Linked DNA regions of Homo sapiens. The protein of the gene in region 1 purifies or fractionates together with the protein of each later gene. This does not show direct contact. Each region holds a gene or a part of one and is shown on either strand. Other genes may lie near its edges. The genes, in order: F13B, FGG, ALB and FGB.

Region 1 (4,352 bases):
AGAGAATAGAGGCAAAGAAAAATTGGGGCTATTTTTCAATTTTGCTAAGAGTTGATTTTACCATGTATTCTTAAGATTTGTAAAACCATATTTTGAGATTTTTTATAATCTAGGTTATTAAAAAAGTTTATAAAATAAATAATTTTTATAATTTTAGAAACATGTTTGGCTCCTGAATTATATAATGGAAATTATTCCACAACACAGAAAACATTCAAAGTGAAGGACAAAGTACAATACGAATGTGCTACTGGCTACTACACAGCTGGAGGAAAGAAGACAGAGGAGGTAGAATGTCTCACATACGGATGGTCTCTCACACCAAAATGTACCAGTAGGTTCTCATTTGGAATAAAATCTACTCTCACTCTGAAAGCTTTTTCTCATAGAGAAGTGTATATAAGTTGTCATGCTCATTATGTTTCACCTTTTCATGCATTTTTGCCTTTATTTTTAATTATGTTGATAGCAGTCTTTGATAATTAAAGCTCTCAAGTAGAATAAATTCATTTTAGCTCACAGAATTAAATTAGAATAAGCCTAATGATATTTAACAAATATATAAAATGAATTCATAAGCTTTTTGGCAAATTTAATTTCTATTCTAGTTATGTCATGTAAATAGTGCATTTTGTTGTAGCAGAAAAAATAAACATTTGTTTGTAATTTTATTCATTCTTTTATTTGCAGAATTAAAGTGCTCTTCTTTAAGATTAATTGAAAATGGTTATTTTCATCCTGTAAAGCAAACCTATGAAGAAGGAGATGTCGTTCAGTTTTTCTGTCATGAAAATTATTATCTAAGTGGATCTGATTTAATTCAATGCTATAACTTTGGTTGGTACCCAGAATCTCCTGTATGCGAAGGTAAATTTTTAAATTTAATACTCGCAAAATGCCATGTCTTTATCAGCTTTAATCTCTATTAGCTCTGACAAAATTCCTGTGGTCATATCTATTTTTTTTCCTGAGTCCTATTTTTAAAATAAATATTATCTTTTAAATCAGTGCTATTTTCAGCAATCTTTAATATATCCCACCTGAATAAATCTTGTTTTGTCTTAGTTTGTAAATGACTATATCTTTTAAATTTATTATTTTAAAATATCTATTATACATTTTAAATCCCTTATTATAACGAATAACTTTTCTTATTGGGAATTATTAGGACTAATTACCCCAATCTGGCAGCTTTGCAAGGATATTTTCTCTTAATTTGCCACATATTTCCAGATGTAAAAATTAATCTCCAAAATAGTGAGGTAGAAAGCAGAGAAAGCAGGAAAAGCAGAAGAATAATGCCCAGAAGTGAAAATGGGAAAAGAGGTCATCTTGTAAAAGCTGCCCAAAAATGTAATATCTATGGTCACATTTCTATTACTGGAAGTGTCCAAACAGGTAATGCAATTACCTGTCAGAAGACATCCATAGTTATTTAAACAAACCTACAATTTAATATGAGGAGGGTCCTATACTAGCAGAAGATATGAAAACAGTAATTGCAGATATGAAAAAAATAATTGCTATAATGTGACAAATGGTACAATCAACTCAGGTACAAAGTGCAGGAATAAACATTAGAGATTCTGATTGGTATGCTGTGGAATAGCATTCACAGAAGTGATGGACAATATTTAAGTTGGGTCTTAAGAGATAAGTAGCAGTTTGAGAATTGGGAGGATAGGGTGAGGCAAAGGGTTTGATAGTCATTTTTTATTTTCTGTAATATGGGATATAAGGTCTATTGACAGGCAGGTGAAAGACATGAAGGTAGAACTTGGAGGAAAGTGGTGAAGATTTGAAACAGGTGCTAGGGGAAACAAATGAGGGCTCTGACCATGGGTATGCAGTGGGATTGCCAGAACTATCATAATTCCCTAAATGCACTGTACAGTAACTTTAAAGATTTTATGATTTTTCATTTGTGCTCGACATCCTTGGTATAGTAGTAGAGAAGTAGATTTTTTAAGCAAATTTTTTTAAAGTCTATTATTCCTTATTTATTTTTTATTTTTTTGAGATGGAGTCCTGCTGTGTCGCCTAAGCTAGAGTGCAGTGGCACGATCTCAGCTCACTGCAACCTCCACCTCCCAGGTTCAAGTGATTCTCCTGCCTCAGCCTCCTGAGTAGCTGGGACTACAGGTGTCGGCCACCATGCCCAGCTAATTTTTTTGTGTTTTTAGTAGAGACAGGGTTTTGCCACGTTGGTCAGGCTGGTCTTGAACTCCTGACCTCAGGTGATCAGCCTGCCTCAGCCTCTCAAAGTGCTACTTCAAAAATAAATGGCAGACCTACTTAAGGCCTTTTATACCCTTCTCCTCTTCCAAATTAGCCAGCATGACAACATGCCTGTTTTTTCCGGTAAACAGTCATTAGGCATACAATGGCTAATATAATTCAGCCCACAACAATATAATTCAGTTGTGGGCTGAATTATATCTCTCTTACTCCTCCCAAAATATAGCCACATTCTAATACTGAGAACCATTAAACGTTACCTTACACGGTACAAGACACTTTGAGGTTAACAATCTTAAGGTAGGAATATTATCTGGAACTATCTATCCAGACTCTAAATATAATCACAAATGCTTTTATAAAAGGGAGGCAGAGGGAGATTGACTGCAGAAGAGGAAGCAGGAGATGTGACAATGGAAGCCACAGGTTGAAATGTTTTGAGGAAGGGGTTGTGAGCCAAGGAATACAGGTGATTTCAAGAAGCTAGAAAAGGCAAAGTAGCTGATTCTCCTCCAAAGTCTCCAGCAGGAATGTGGCTCTCCTGATATCTCGATTTTAGTCCAGTGAAACTGACTCTGGACTTCTGGCCTCTAGGACTGTAGGAGGATAAATCTGTGCTGTTTTAAGCCACTAAATTGTAATTCATCAAAGCAGCAATAGGAAAGTAGTGTGGTCAGTATTTTAGAGCAGGAGACTTTAATTTAGACAGACGTGGGTTCAAGAACAGATCTGCTACATGCTATTAATTTATTTACTTCATAAGTTTTAGTTTGTCTATAACATGGGAGAAATAATAGTTCCTACTTAATAAAGTTATTTTAGGACTAAAAGAGGTAATGAATGTAAAATGCCTGCTGTGTTAGTATTCTATTGGTGCGTAACAATGTCACCACAAACTCAGCAGGTTAAAACAACACAAAGAAATTATTTCCCATTGGGTGTAGGTTGGGGGTCTGGGTGCGGCTTAACCGACTCCTTGCATCGATGGCTATCAAAGCTGCAATCAAGATGTTAGCTGGACTGCAGTCTCATCTGAGGCTTGACTGGGCAAGACTTCTTCCAAACTCACTGTAGTTATTGGCAGCATTCAGTGCTTTGCAGACTGCTGAACTGAGAGCCTCTGTTTCTTGTGGCTGTTAACTGAAGGCAGCCCTCTGCCCCTTGCCTTGCAGCCGTTCTGCTTTGGAAGCTCATGATGTAGCCTCTTGTTTCTTCAAAACCAGCAAGGATAGAGAGTCTCTTGGCAAGAATGGCGTTAAAAACTGATGTTACATAATTATGTGTGCATAATCACGTACTAATCCATCACCTTTGCTGTATTTTGTGGGCTAGAAGCAAGTCACAGGTCCTACTCATGGAAAGGGGTATCACACAAGGAAGTTAACATCAGGAGGTGAGGATCAAAGGAATGCTCCTAGAATCAGTCTGCCATTCTCTCTATGATGCTTGACATGATGAATATTTTAATTTAATCTTTATTATTTTTTGTAATTATATGACTAAAGGTGCTGATTAATTTTTTCCATAAGGAAGAAGAAACAGATGTCCTCCTCCACCTCTGCCCATAAACTCCAAAATTCAAACACATTCAACAACTTATCGTCATGGAGAAATAGTTCATATAGAATGTGAACTTAATTTTGAGATCCATGGGTCAGCAGAAATACGTTGTGAAGATGGAAAATGGACAGAACCTCCAAAATGCATTGGTTAGTAACACCTTGAAGAAGCTTTGCTAAAATGAAATCTGCATGTGTAGCTAAATGGTCAGTTCTCTTTCAACTGTACCTTTTCAGAAGGACAGGAGAAGGTAGCCTGTGAGGAACCACCCTTCATTGAAAATGGTGCAGCAAATTTACACTCTAAGATTTATTACAATGGGGATAAAGTGACATATGCATGTAAAAGCGGCTACCTTCTCCATGGATCGAATGAGATAACTTGTAATCGTGGAAAATGGACACTTCCTCCTGAGTGTGTTGGTATGTATGCTACATTTACCATCAGTAGCTAAACTTATGGTGTAAAATTTTCCATTCTGTTACTTTAATCTGAATATTCCTAGGAAAAGACCACTGCTTAGGCAAATTAGAAACACATTGCTACAGCACCTA
Region 2 (3,845 bases), on another chromosome or scaffold:
ATAGTTTACTACATGTTAAAAGCTATTTTTCAAGGCTGGCACAGTCTTACCTGCATTTCAAACCACAGTAAAAGTCGATTCTCCTTCTCTAGATTGTCAAGACATTGCCAATAAGGGAGCTAAACAGAGCGGGCTTTACTTTATTAAACCTCTGAAAGCTAACCAGCAATTCTTAGTCTACTGTGAAATCGATGGGTCTGGAAATGGATGGACTGTGTTTCAGAAGGTAATTTTTTCCCCACCATGTGTATTTAATAAATTCCTACATTGTTTCTGCCATATGGCAGATACTTTTCTAAGCACCTTGTGAACCGTAGCTCATTTAATCCTTGCAATAGCCCTAAGAGGAAGGTACTTCTGTTACTCCTATTTACAGAAAAGGAAACTGAGGCACACAAGGTTAAATAACTTGCCCAAGACCACATAACTAATAAGCAACAGAGTCAGCATTTGAACCTAGGCAGTATAGTTTCAGAGTTTGTGACTTGACTCTATATTGTACTGGCACTGACTTTGTAGATTCATGGTGGCACATAATCATAGTACCACAGTGACAAATAAAAAGAAGGAAACTCTTTTGTCAGGTAGGTCAAGACCTGAGGTTTCCCATCACAAGATGAGGAAGCCCAACACCACCCCCCACCACCCCACCACCATCACCACCCTTTCACACACCAGAGGATACACTTGGGCTGCTCCAAGACAAGGAACCTGTGTTGCATCTGCCACTTGCTGATACCCACTAGGAATCTTGGCTCCTTTACTTTCTGTTTACCTCCCACCACTGTTATAACTGTTTCTACAGGGGGCGCTCAGAGGGAATGAATGGTGGAAGCATTAGTTGCCAGACACCGATTGAGCAATGGGTTCCATCATAAGTGTAAGAATCAGTAATATCCAGCTAGAGTTCTGAAGTCGTCTAGGTGTCTTTTTAATATTACCACTCATTTAGAATTTATGATGTGCCAGAAACCCTCTTAAGTATTTCTCTTATATTCTCTCTCATGATCCTTGCAGCAACCCTAAGAAGTAACCATCATTTTTCCTATTTGATACATGAGGAAACTGAGGTAGCTTGGCCAAGATCACTTAGTTGGGAGTTGATAGAACCAGTGCTCTGTATTTTTGACAAAATGTTGACAGCATTCTCTTTACATGCATTGATAGTCTATTTTCTCCTTTTGCTCTTGCAAATGTGTAATTAGAGACTTGATGGCAGTGTAGATTTCAAGAAAAACTGGATTCAATATAAAGAAGGATTTGGACATCTGTCTCCTACTGGCACAACAGAATTTTGGCTGGGAAATGAGAAGATTCATTTGATAAGCACACAGTCTGCCATCCCATATGCATTAAGAGTGGAACTGGAAGACTGGAATGGCAGAACCAGGTACTGTTTTGAAATGACTTCCAACTTTTTATTGTAAAGATTGCCTGGAATGTGCACTTTCCAACTATCAATAGACAATGGCAAATGCAGCCTGACAAATGCAAACAGCACATCCAGCCACCATTTTCTCCAGGAGTCTGTTTGGTTCTTGGGCAATCCAAAAAGGTAAATTCTATTCAGGATGAATCTAAGTGTATTGGTACAATCTAATTACCCTGGAACCATTCAGAGTAATAGCTAATTACTGAACTTTTAATCAGTCCCAGGAATTGAGCATAAAATTATAATTTTATCTAGTCTAAATTACTATTTCATGAAGCAGGTATTATTATTAATCCCATTTTATAGATTAACTTGCTCAAAGTCACATTGCTGATAAGTGGTAGAGGTAGAATTCAGACTCAAGTAGTTTAACTTTAGAGCCTGTCCTCTTAACAACTATCCTGGTTGAAAAGCAAATACAGCCTCTTCAGACTTCTCAGTGCCTTGATGGCCATTTATTCTGTCAAATCATGAGCTACCCTAAAAGTAAACCAGCTAGCTCTTTTGATGATCTAGAGGCTTCTTTTTGCTTGAGATATTTGAAGGTTTTAAGCATTGTTACCTAATTAAAATGCAGAAAAATATCCAACCCTCTTGTTATGTATAAGGAATAGTGAAATATATTGTCTTCAAACACATGGACTTTTTTTTATTGCTTGGTTGGTTTTTAATCCAGAAAGTGCTATAGTCAGTAGACCTTCTTCTAGGAAAGGACCTTCCATTTCCCAGCCACTGGAGATTAGAAAATAAGCTAAATATTTTCTGGAAATTTCTGTTCATTCATTAAGGCCCATCCTTTCCCCCACTCTATAGAAGTGTTGTCCACTTGCACAATTTTTTCCAGGAAAGAATCTCTCTAACTCCTTCAGCTCACATGCTTTGGACCACACAGGGAAGACTTTGATTGTGTAATGCCCTCAGAAGCTCTCCTTCTTGCCACTACCACACTGATTTGAGGAAGAAAATCCCTTTAGCACCTAACCCTTCAGGTGCTATGAGTGGCTAATGGAACTGTACCTCCTTCAAGTTTTGTGCAATAATTAAGGGTCACTCACTGTCAGATACTTTCTGTGATCTATGATAATGTGTGTGCAACACATAACATTTCAATAAAAGTAGAAAATATGAAATTAGAGTCATCTACACATCTGGATTTGATCTTAGAATGAAACAAGCAAAAAAGCATCCAAGTGAGTGCAATTATTAGTTTTCAGAGATGCTTCAAAGGCTTCTAGGCCCATCCCGGGAAGTGTTAATGAGCTGTGGACTGGTTCACATATCTATTGCCTCTTGCCAGATTTGCAAAAAACTTCACTCAATGAGCAAATTTCAGCCTTAAGAAACAAAGTCAAAAATTCCAAGGAAGCATCCTACGAAAGAGGGAACTTCTGAGATCCCTGAGGAGGGTCAGCATGTGATGGTTGTATTTCCTTCTTCTCAGTACTGCAGACTATGCCATGTTCAAGGTGGGACCTGAAGCTGACAAGTACCGCCTAACATATGCCTACTTCGCTGGTGGGGATGCTGGAGATGCCTTTGATGGCTTTGATTTTGGCGATGATCCTAGTGACAAGTTTTTCACATCCCATAATGGCATGCAGTTCAGTACCTGGGACAATGACAATGATAAGTTTGAAGGCAACTGTGCTGAACAGGATGGATCTGGTTGGTGGATGAACAAGTGTCACGCTGGCCATCTCAATGGAGTTTATTACCAAGGTATGTTTTCCTTTCTTAGATTCCAAGTTAATGTATAGTGTATACTATTTTCATAAAAAATAATAAATAGATATGAAGAAATGAAGAATAATTTATAAAGATAGTAGGGATTTTATCATGTTCTTTATTTCAACTAAGTTCTTTGAAACTGGAAGTGGATAATACCAAGTTCATGCCTAAAATTAGCCCTTCTAAAGAAATCCACCTGCTGCAAAATATCCAGTAGTTTGGCATTATATGTGAAACTATCACCATCATAGCTGGCACTGTGGGTTGTGGGATCTCCTTTAGACATACAACATAAATGATCTGGATGGATTAACATTACTACATGGATGCTTGTTGACACATTAACCTGGCTTCCCATGAGCTTTGTGTCAGATACACGCAGTGAACAGGTGTTTGGAGGAACAGAATAAAGAGAAGGCAAGCACTGGTAAGGGCAGGGGTTTGTGAAAGCTTGAGAGAAGAGACCAGTCTGAGGACAGTAGACACTTATTTTAGGATGGGGGTTGGATGAGGAGGCTATAGTTTGCTATAAGCTTGGAATGGTTTGGAACACTGGTTTCACTCACCTACCCAGCAGTTATGTGTGGGGAAGCCTTACCGATGCTAAAGGATCCATGTTACAATAATGGCATTATTTGGAAATCCCAGTGGTATTCCATGAATAAAACCACTATGAAGATAATCC
Region 3 (4,352 bases), on another chromosome or scaffold:
TTGTGTGCATGTGTGTGTGCATGCACGTGTGTGTATGTGTGATATTGGCAGTCAAGGCCCCGAGGATGATAATTTTTTTTTTTTTTTTGAGACGGAGTCTCGCTTTGTTGTCCAGGCTGGAGTGCAGTGGTGCCATCTCGGCTCACTGCAACCTCCGCCTCCCAGGTTCAAGCCATTCTCCTGCCTCAGCCTCCCAAGTAGCTGGGACTACAGGTGCATGCCACCATGCCTGGCTAATTTTTTGTATTTTTAGTAGAAAATTTTCAGCTTCACCTCTTTTGAATTTCTGCTCTCCTGCCTGTTCTTTAGCTATCCGTGGTCCTGAACCAGTTATGTGTGTTGCATGAGAAAACGCCAGTAAGTGACAGAGTCACCAAATGCTGCACAGAATCCTTGGTGAACAGGCGACCATGCTTTTCAGCTCTGGAAGTCGATGAAACATACGTTCCCAAAGAGTTTAATGCTGAAACATTCACCTTCCATGCAGATATATGCACACTTTCTGAGAAGGAGAGACAAATCAAGAAACAAACGTGAGGAGTATTTCATTACTGCATGTGTTTGTAGTCTTGATAGCAAGAACTGTCAATTCAAGCTAGCAACTTTTTCCTGAAGTAGTGATTATATTTCTTAGAGGAAAGTATTGGAGTGTTGCCCTTATTATGCTGATAAGAGTACCCAGAATAAAATGAATAACTTTTTAAAGACAAAATCCTCTGTTATAATATTGCTAAAATTATTCAGAGTAATATTGTGGATTAAAGCCACAATAGAATAACATGTTAGGCCATATTCAGTAGAAAAAGATGAACAATTAACTGATAAATTTGTGCACATGGCAAATTAGTTAATGGGAACCATAGGAGAATTTATTTCTAGATGTAAATAATTATTTTAAGTTTGCCCTATGGTGGCCCCACACATGAGACAAACCCCCAAGATGTGACTTTTGAGAATGAGACTTGGATAAAAAACATGTAGAAATGCAAGCCCTGAAGCTCAACTCCCTATTGCTATCACAGGGGTTATAATTGCATAAAATTTAGCTATAGAAAGTTGCTGTCATCTCTTGTGGGCTGTAATCATCGTCTAGGCTTAAGAGTAATATTGCAAAACCTGTCATGCCCACACAAATCTCTCCCTGGCATTGTTGTCTTTGCAGATGTCAGTGAAAGAGAACCAGCAGCTCCCATGAGTTTGGATAGCCTTATTTTCTATAGCCTCCCCACTATTAGCTTTGAAGGGAGCAAAGTTTAAGAACCAAATATAAAGTTTCTCATCTTTATAGATGAGAAAAATTTTAAATAAAGTCCAAGATAATTAAATTTTTAAGGATCATTTTTAGCTCTTTAATAGCAATAAAACTCAATATGACATAATATGGCACTTCCAAAATCTGAATAATATATAATTGCAATGACATACTTCTTTTCAGAGATTTACTGAAAAGAAATTTGTTGACACTACATAACGTGATGAGTGGTTTATACTGATTGTTTCAGTTGGTCTTCCCACCAACTCCATGAAAGTGGATTTTATTATCCTCATCATGCAGATGAGAATATTGAGACTTATAGCGGTATGCCTGAGCCCCAAAGTACTCAGAGTTGCCTGGCTCCAAGATTTATAATCTTAAATGATGGGACTACCATCCTTACTCTCTCCATTTTTCTATACGTGAGTAATGTTTTTTCTGTTTTTTTTTTTTCTTTTTCCATTCAAACTCAGTGCACTTGTTGAGCTCGTGAAACACAAGCCCAAGGCAACAAAAGAGCAACTGAAAGCTGTTATGGATGATTTCGCAGCTTTTGTAGAGAAGTGCTGCAAGGCTGACGATAAGGAGACCTGCTTTGCCGAGGAGGTACTACAGTTCTCTTCATTTTAATATGTCCAGTATTCATTTTTGCATGTTTGGTTAGGCTAGGGCTTAGGGATTTATATATCAAAGGAGGCTTTGTACATGTGGGACAGGGATCTTATTTTACAAACAATTGTCTTACAAAATGAATAAAACAGCACTTTGTTTTTATCTCCTGCTCTATTGTGCCATACTGTTAAATGTTTATAATGCCTGTTCTGTTTCCAAATTTGTGATGCTTATGAATATTAATAGGAATATTTGTAAGGCCTGAAATATTTTGATCATGAAATCAAAACATTAATTTATTTAAACATTTACTTGAAATGTGGTGGTTTGTGATTTAGTTGATTTTATAGGCTAGTGGGAGAATTTACATTCAAATGTCTAAATCACTTAAAATTGCCCTTTATGGCCTGACAGTAACTTTTTTTTATTCATTTGGGGACAACTATGTCCGTGAGCTTCCGTCCAGAGATTATAGTAGTAAATTGTAATTAAAGGATATGATGCACGTGAAATCACTTTGCAATCATCAATAGCTTCATAAATGTTAATTTTGTATCCTAATAGTAATGCTAATATTTTCCTAACATCTGTCATGTCTTTGTGTTCAGGGTAAAAAACTTGTTGCTGCAAGTCAAGCTGCCTTAGGCTTATAACATCACATTTAAAAGCATCTCAGGTAACTATATTTTGAATTTTTTAAAAAAGTAACTATAATAGTTATTATTAAAATAGCAAAGATTGACCATTTCCAAGAGCCATATAGACCAGCACCGACCACTATTCTAAACTATTTATGTATGTAAATATTAGCTTTTAAAATTCTCAAAATAGTTGCTGAGTTGGGAACCACTATTATTTCTATTTTGTAGATGAGAAAATGAAGATAAACATCAAAGCATAGATTAAGTAATTTTCCAAAGGGTCAAAATTCAAAATTGAAACCAAAGTTTCAGTGTTGCCCATTGTCCTGTTCTGACTTATATGATGCGGTACACAGAGCCATCCAAGTAAGTGATGGCTCAGCAGTGGAATACTCTGGGAATTAGGCTGAACCACATGAAAGAGTGCTTTATAGGGCAAAAACAGTTGAATATCAGTGATTTCACATGGTTCAACCTAATAGTTCAACTCATCCTTTCCATTGGAGAATATGATGGATCTACCTTCTGTGAACTTTATAGTGAAGAATCTGCTATTACATTTCCAATTTGTCAACATGCTGAGCTTTAATAGGACTTATCTTCTTATGACAACATTTATTGGTGTGTCCCCTTGCCTAGCCCAACAGAAGAATTCAGCAGCCGTAAGTCTAGGACAGGCTTAAATTGTTTTCACTGGTGTAAATTGCAGAAAGATGATCTAAGTAATTTGGCATTTATTTTAATAGGTTTGAAAAACACATGCCATTTTACAAATAAGACTTATATTTGTCCTTTTGTTTTTCAGCCTACCATGAGAATAAGAGAAAGAAAATGAAGATCAAAAGCTTATTCATCTGTTTTTCTTTTTCGTTGGTGTAAAGCCAACACCCTGTCTAAAAAACATAAATTTCTTTAATCATTTTGCCTCTTTTCTCTGTGCTTCAATTAATAAAAAATGGAAAGAATCTAATAGAGTGGTACAGCACTGTTATTTTTCAAAGATGTGTTGCTATCCTGAAAATTCTGTAGGTTCTGTGGAAGTTCCAGTGTTCTCTCTTATTCCACTTCGGTAGAGGATTTCTAGTTTCTTGTGGGCTAATTAAATAAATCATTAATACTCTTCTAAGTTATGGATTATAAACATTCAAAATAATATTTTGACATTATGATAATTCTGAATAAAAGAACAAAAACCATGGTATAGGTAAGGAATATAAAACATGGCTTTTACCTTAGAAAAAACAATTCTAAAATTCATATGGAATCAAAAAAGAGCCTGCAGAACCAAAGTAAGACTAAGCAAAAAGAACAAATTACCTGATTTCAAACTACACTATAAGGCCATAGTCACCGAAACAGCAAGGTACTGGTATAAAAATAGGCACACAGACCAATGGAATAGAACAGAATAGAGAACCCAGAAATAAATCCACATACTTACAGCTAACTGATTTTAGACAAAGAAAACAAAAACATAAGGTGGGGAAAGGACAACTTTTTCAACAAATGGTGCTAGGATAATTGGCAAGCACATGTAGGAGACTGAAGCTAGATCCTCATCTCTCACCTTATACAAACATCAACTCAAGATGGATTAGGAACTTAAATCTAAGGCCTAAAACTATAAAAATTCTAGAAGATAACATTGGGAAAAACCCTTCTACATATAGGCTTAGGCAAGGATTTCATGACCAAGAACCCAAAACAAATACAATGAAAACAAAGATAAATTGCTGGGACTTCATTAAACTAAAGAGCTTTTGCATGGCATGGCAAAAGAAACAGTCAGCTGAGTAAACAGACAACCCACAGAGTGAGAAAAAAATCTTCACAATCTATACTTC
Region 4 (4,352 bases), on another chromosome or scaffold:
TAGGTGAATATTGGCTTGGAAATGATAAAATTAGCCAGCTTACCAGGATGGGACCCACAGAACTTTTGATAGAAATGGAGGACTGGAAAGGAGACAAAGTAAAGGCTCACTATGGAGGATTCACTGTACAGAATGAAGCCAACAAATACCAGATCTCAGTGAACAAATACAGAGGAACAGCCGGTAATGCCCTCATGGATGGAGCATCTCAGCTGATGGGAGAAAACAGGACCATGACCATTCACAACGGCATGTTCTTCAGCACGTATGACAGAGACAATGACGGCTGGTATGTGTGGCACTCTTTGCTCCTGCTTTAAAAATCACACTAATATCATTACTCAGAATCATTAACAATATTTTTAATAGCTACCACTTCCTGGGCACTTACTGTCAGCCACTGTCCTAAGCTCTTTATGCATCACTCGAAAGCATTTCAACTATAAGGTAGACATTCTTATTCTCATTTTACAGATGAGATTTAGAGAGATTACGTGATTTGTCCAATGTCACACAACTACCCAGAGATAAAACTAGAATTTGAGCACAGTTACTTTCTGAATAATGAGCATTTAGATAAATACCTATATCTCTATATTCTAAAGTGTGTGTGAAAACTTTCATTTTCATTTCCAGGGTTCTCTGATACTAAGGGTTGTAAAAGCTATTATTCCAGTATAAAGTAACAAACACAGTCCCTAGATGGATTGGCCACAAAGGCCCAGTTATCTCTCTTTCTTGCTATAGGGCACAGGAGGTCTTTGGTGTATTAGTGTGACTCTATGTATAGCACCCAAAGGAAAGACTACTGTGCACACGAGTGTAGCAGTCTTTTATGGGTAATCTGCAAAACGTAACTTGACCACCGTAGTTCTGTTTCTAATAACGCCAAACACATTTTCTTTCAGGTTAACATCAGATCCCAGAAAACAGTGTTCTAAAGAAGACGGTGGTGGATGGTGGTATAATAGATGTCATGCAGCCAATCCAAACGGCAGATACTACTGGGGTGGACAGTACACCTGGGACATGGCAAAGCATGGCACAGATGATGGTGTAGTATGGATGAATTGGAAGGGGTCATGGTACTCAATGAGGAAGATGAGTATGAAGATCAGGCCCTTCTTCCCACAGCAATAGTCCCCAATACGTAGATTTTTGCTCTTCTGTATGTGACAACATTTTTGTACATTATGTTATTGGAATTTTCTTTCATACATTATATTCCTCTAAAACTCTCAAGCAGACGTGAGTGTGACTTTTTGAAAAAAGTATAGGATAAATTACATTAAAATAGCACATGATTTTCTTTTGTTTTCTTCATTTCTCTTGCTCACCAAGAAGTAACAAAAGTATAGTTTTGACAGAGTTGGTGTTCATAATTTCAGTTCTAGTTGATTGCGAGAATTTTCAAATAAGGAAGAGGGGTCTTTTATCCTTGTCGTAGGAAAACCATGACGGAAAGGAAAAACTGATGTTTAAAAGTCCACTTTTAAAACTATATTTATTTATGTAGGATCTGTCAAAGAAAACTTCCAAAAAGATTTATTAATTAAACCAGACTCTGTTGCAATAAGTTAATGTTTTCTTGTTTTGTAATCCACACATTCAATGAGTTAGGCTTTGCACTTGTAAGGAAGGAGAAGCGTTCACAACCTCAAATAGCTAATAAACCGGTCTTGAATATTTGAAGATTTAAAATCTGACTCTAGGACGGGCACGGTGGCTCACGACTATAATCCCAACACTTTGGGAGGCTGAGGCGGGCGGTCACAAGGTCAGGAGTTCAAGACCAGCCTGACCAATATGGTGAAACCCCATCTCTACTAAAAATACAAAAATTAGCCAGGCGTGGTGGCAGGTGCCTGTAGTCCCAGCTACCTGTGAGGTGGAGATTGCATTGAGCCAAGATCTCAACACTGCACTCCAGCCTGGGCAACAGCGTGAGACTCCACCTCAAAAAAAAAAAAAAAAGAATCTGACTATATACCATGGAAAAGCCACCACTCTGCCACTTAAATAAACATCAGGATCAGAGATTCCAAGAGGACAATCTGCATCAAGTCTTCACCAAGTGTTTTTTAAGCGAAATAATGAAATAGGGAGCAGAATATGCCTGTTGCCCATAGAAACGAGGTCTATTCTTGTCCTCAATTAGGCTTTTTTTTCTTCATAGTTACACCAGAACTAAAGTAAAAGTGGTTTTTCTGTTCTTTCTACTTCTCCCCATGAAATGGGCATATCATCTCAACACTTCACTCCAAGTCGCCACGGGCAACCTTATGACCCTAGGTCCTCCACCCCTAATGTATCATCATTGCCACCCATTTTTATGGTACTTATTGTTCTTAAGCTTATCCTCTTAATCTTTTCATGTAAGCAAAGCTCATTAATTTCTGTCTTGGAAATGCTACTACTCTCTTTAATTACTCACCAAATCCAACTTTAACTTTTGACCTGGTTTCTCTGCCACAAGTTCTGTCCCACTGGAGCCCATACTCACCTACCGCTTTGCCATCACATTTAACAGAAAACTCTTATCAACTTACTTCCTGCTTAACATTAGCTCCTTCCTATCTATATCCAAATTTCTTAAATTCAAATTTTTTAGCTGGAGTAAAAATGGTCCCAGTACCATTTCCTGTTCCCTTCACTATAACCTACATTTTTGTCACATTAAGTTTTTCCCCATTCCAGGACAGGTCAGGCCCTTTAAAAATTTCAACAGCTTTATTGAGATATAATTGATATAATTTAAAAAATCCTGCACATGTGTCATGCTGGAGCCCTATTGATTCCAACAGGGATGGCGCCTTGTCCAAGAAGAGACCCAGAGCCAGTGAATGGGACATAGGGTTTATTTAGGACTTAAATACAGATGTGGTCCAGTGGCAGTGGGCTGGACAGGACCGCTACTATTTGTAAAGAGTATGTAGTTTATATAACATTTCTACTTAGCACTCTCCACTTAGCAACCTCCATTTAACCCAAAATAAAAGGCCTTGGTTCCTTGCACATCCTGAGTTCCAACGGACAGGCAGGGAGTTCAAGTGTCCTTCACAGATAAGAAGTGAATCTCTCTGGGTTGGCCATTCCCGGATTCCTTAGCTTAGACTCTGAACACATATTCTTCTTAGACCATACAGTCATTCTCAGGGTATGCTTGAGTTAATGCTGTCGGATGCATCTGTCATACAAAGTGTTTAACATATACGATTTCATGATTTTGGAAATATGCATACACCCATGATATCACTGGCACAGTCAAGATATTAAATATATCCATCACCTCCAAAAGTTTCCTTGTGTTCATTTATTTTAGTTTTTCATGGTAAGAACATTTAATATGAAATATTATCAACAAATTTTTAAGTGCACAATACTGTATTATTAATTTTAGGCATTATGTTGTACAGTAGATCTCTAGAACATATTCATCTACTAAAAATGAAATTTTATCTCCATTTCCCCCTACCTCCCATCCCCTGGCAACTACCATTCTATTTTCCACTTTGACTGTTTCAGATACCTCATATAAGTGAAATCACACAGTATCCTTTCGCACTGTTGTGGGGATGTAAAACGGTGCAGCTACCATGGGAAGAAATGTGGAGGCCCCTAAAAAATTTTTTAAAAAATTCTGATTATCATATGATCCAGCAATCTCACTTTTAGGCATATATCCAAAAGAACTGATATCAGGATCTGGAAGCAATATTTGTGCATCTGTGGTCATTGCAACATTATTCACAATGTTCAGGTCCTTTTATATGATGCCCTCATTGCAGCAATGTCTTCCTCCCAACACCATCTGACAAACTGCTATTTGTTTTTAAACCTCACTTTAACTGTCACCGCCCAGAGAAGACTTTCTAAAACCTTTGGGCAAATTTTATTACTTTTTGACAATGAATGCCTGAGGCTTATCCAGCTTTGATTCCAGAAACATCAGCCTGTCAGAATGGCTAATTTTCATGCATTTGTGAATGCTGGATGGCTAAATCCAGTGATTTTCAAAGTCTCGAACATCCTCTTTTTAAATGTAGAACCCATTTTCCAATAAAGCCACAAACAGAAACTCAACATGCAAAGTTCTTGAATATGGAACTTTTGGGGCAATACTGAGAGTCGCAAAAGTTCACTGAATGAAAAATGCGGGTTGGGAAGACTGCAGTCATCAGACCTTTGCTCACTCCTTACGTGTTCACAGAGGATCAAATGAATCCCTAGAGCTTGAAGTAATGCCATAGAAGAAAAACCACTAAAGTAGATAATCTGATGGTCAATTCTTAGTTAATGTACAAATAGAAAAAACACAGAGACCACTCCCAGGTAATATGTAAGTCTATCTA

The links.
Region 2: the proteins of F13B (region 1) and FGG purify together in Homo sapiens (co-purification; 2 studies listed by BioGRID and IntAct, with this or other methods). This does not show direct contact.
Region 3: the proteins of F13B (region 1) and ALB purify together in Homo sapiens (co-immunoprecipitation; one study listed by IntAct). This does not show direct contact.
Region 4: the proteins of F13B (region 1) and FGB purify together in Homo sapiens (co-immunoprecipitation; one study listed by IntAct). This does not show direct contact.

The regions. Positions count from the first base shown.
Region 1 is NC_000001.11:197,056,881-197,061,232, reverse strand, and holds part of F13B (coagulation factor XIII B chain precursor), read left to right. Parts: intron 1-157; coding exon 158-334; intron 335-690; coding exon 691-867; intron 868-3,767; coding exon 3,768-3,947; intron 3,948-4,034; coding exon 4,035-4,220; intron 4,221-4,352. UniProt on the Homo sapiens protein: The B chain of factor XIII is not catalytically active, but is thought to stabilize the A subunits and regulate the rate of transglutaminase formation by thrombin.
Region 2 is NC_000004.12:154,606,011-154,609,855, reverse strand, and holds part of FGG (fibrinogen gamma chain isoform gamma-B precursor), read left to right. Parts: intron 1-92; coding exon 93-226; intron 227-1,205; coding exon 1,206-1,390; intron 1,391-2,873; coding exon 2,874-3,151; intron 3,152-3,845. UniProt on the Homo sapiens protein: Together with fibrinogen alpha (FGA) and fibrinogen beta (FGB), polymerizes to form an insoluble fibrin matrix. Has a major function in hemostasis as one of the primary components of blood clots.
Region 3 is NC_000004.12:73,417,779-73,422,130, forward strand, and holds the end of ALB (albumin preproprotein), read left to right. Parts: intron 1-309; coding exon 310-533; intron 534-1,728; coding exon 1,729-1,861; intron 1,862-2,475; coding exon 2,476-2,520; 3' UTR 2,521-2,543; intron 2,544-3,313; 3' UTR 3,314-3,704; downstream 3,705-4,352. UniProt on the Homo sapiens protein: Binds water, Ca(2+), Na(+), K(+), fatty acids, hormones, bilirubin and drugs. Its main function is the regulation of the colloidal osmotic pressure of blood. Major zinc transporter in plasma, typically binds about 80% of all plasma zinc.
Region 4 is NC_000004.12:154,569,511-154,573,862, forward strand, and holds the end of FGB (fibrinogen beta chain isoform 1 preproprotein), read left to right. Parts: intron 1-3; coding exon 4-289; intron 290-908; coding exon 909-1,140; 3' UTR 1,141-3,297; downstream 3,298-4,352. UniProt on the Homo sapiens protein: Cleaved by the protease thrombin to yield monomers which, together with fibrinogen alpha (FGA) and fibrinogen gamma (FGG), polymerize to form an insoluble fibrin matrix. Fibrin has a major function in hemostasis as one of the primary components of blood clots.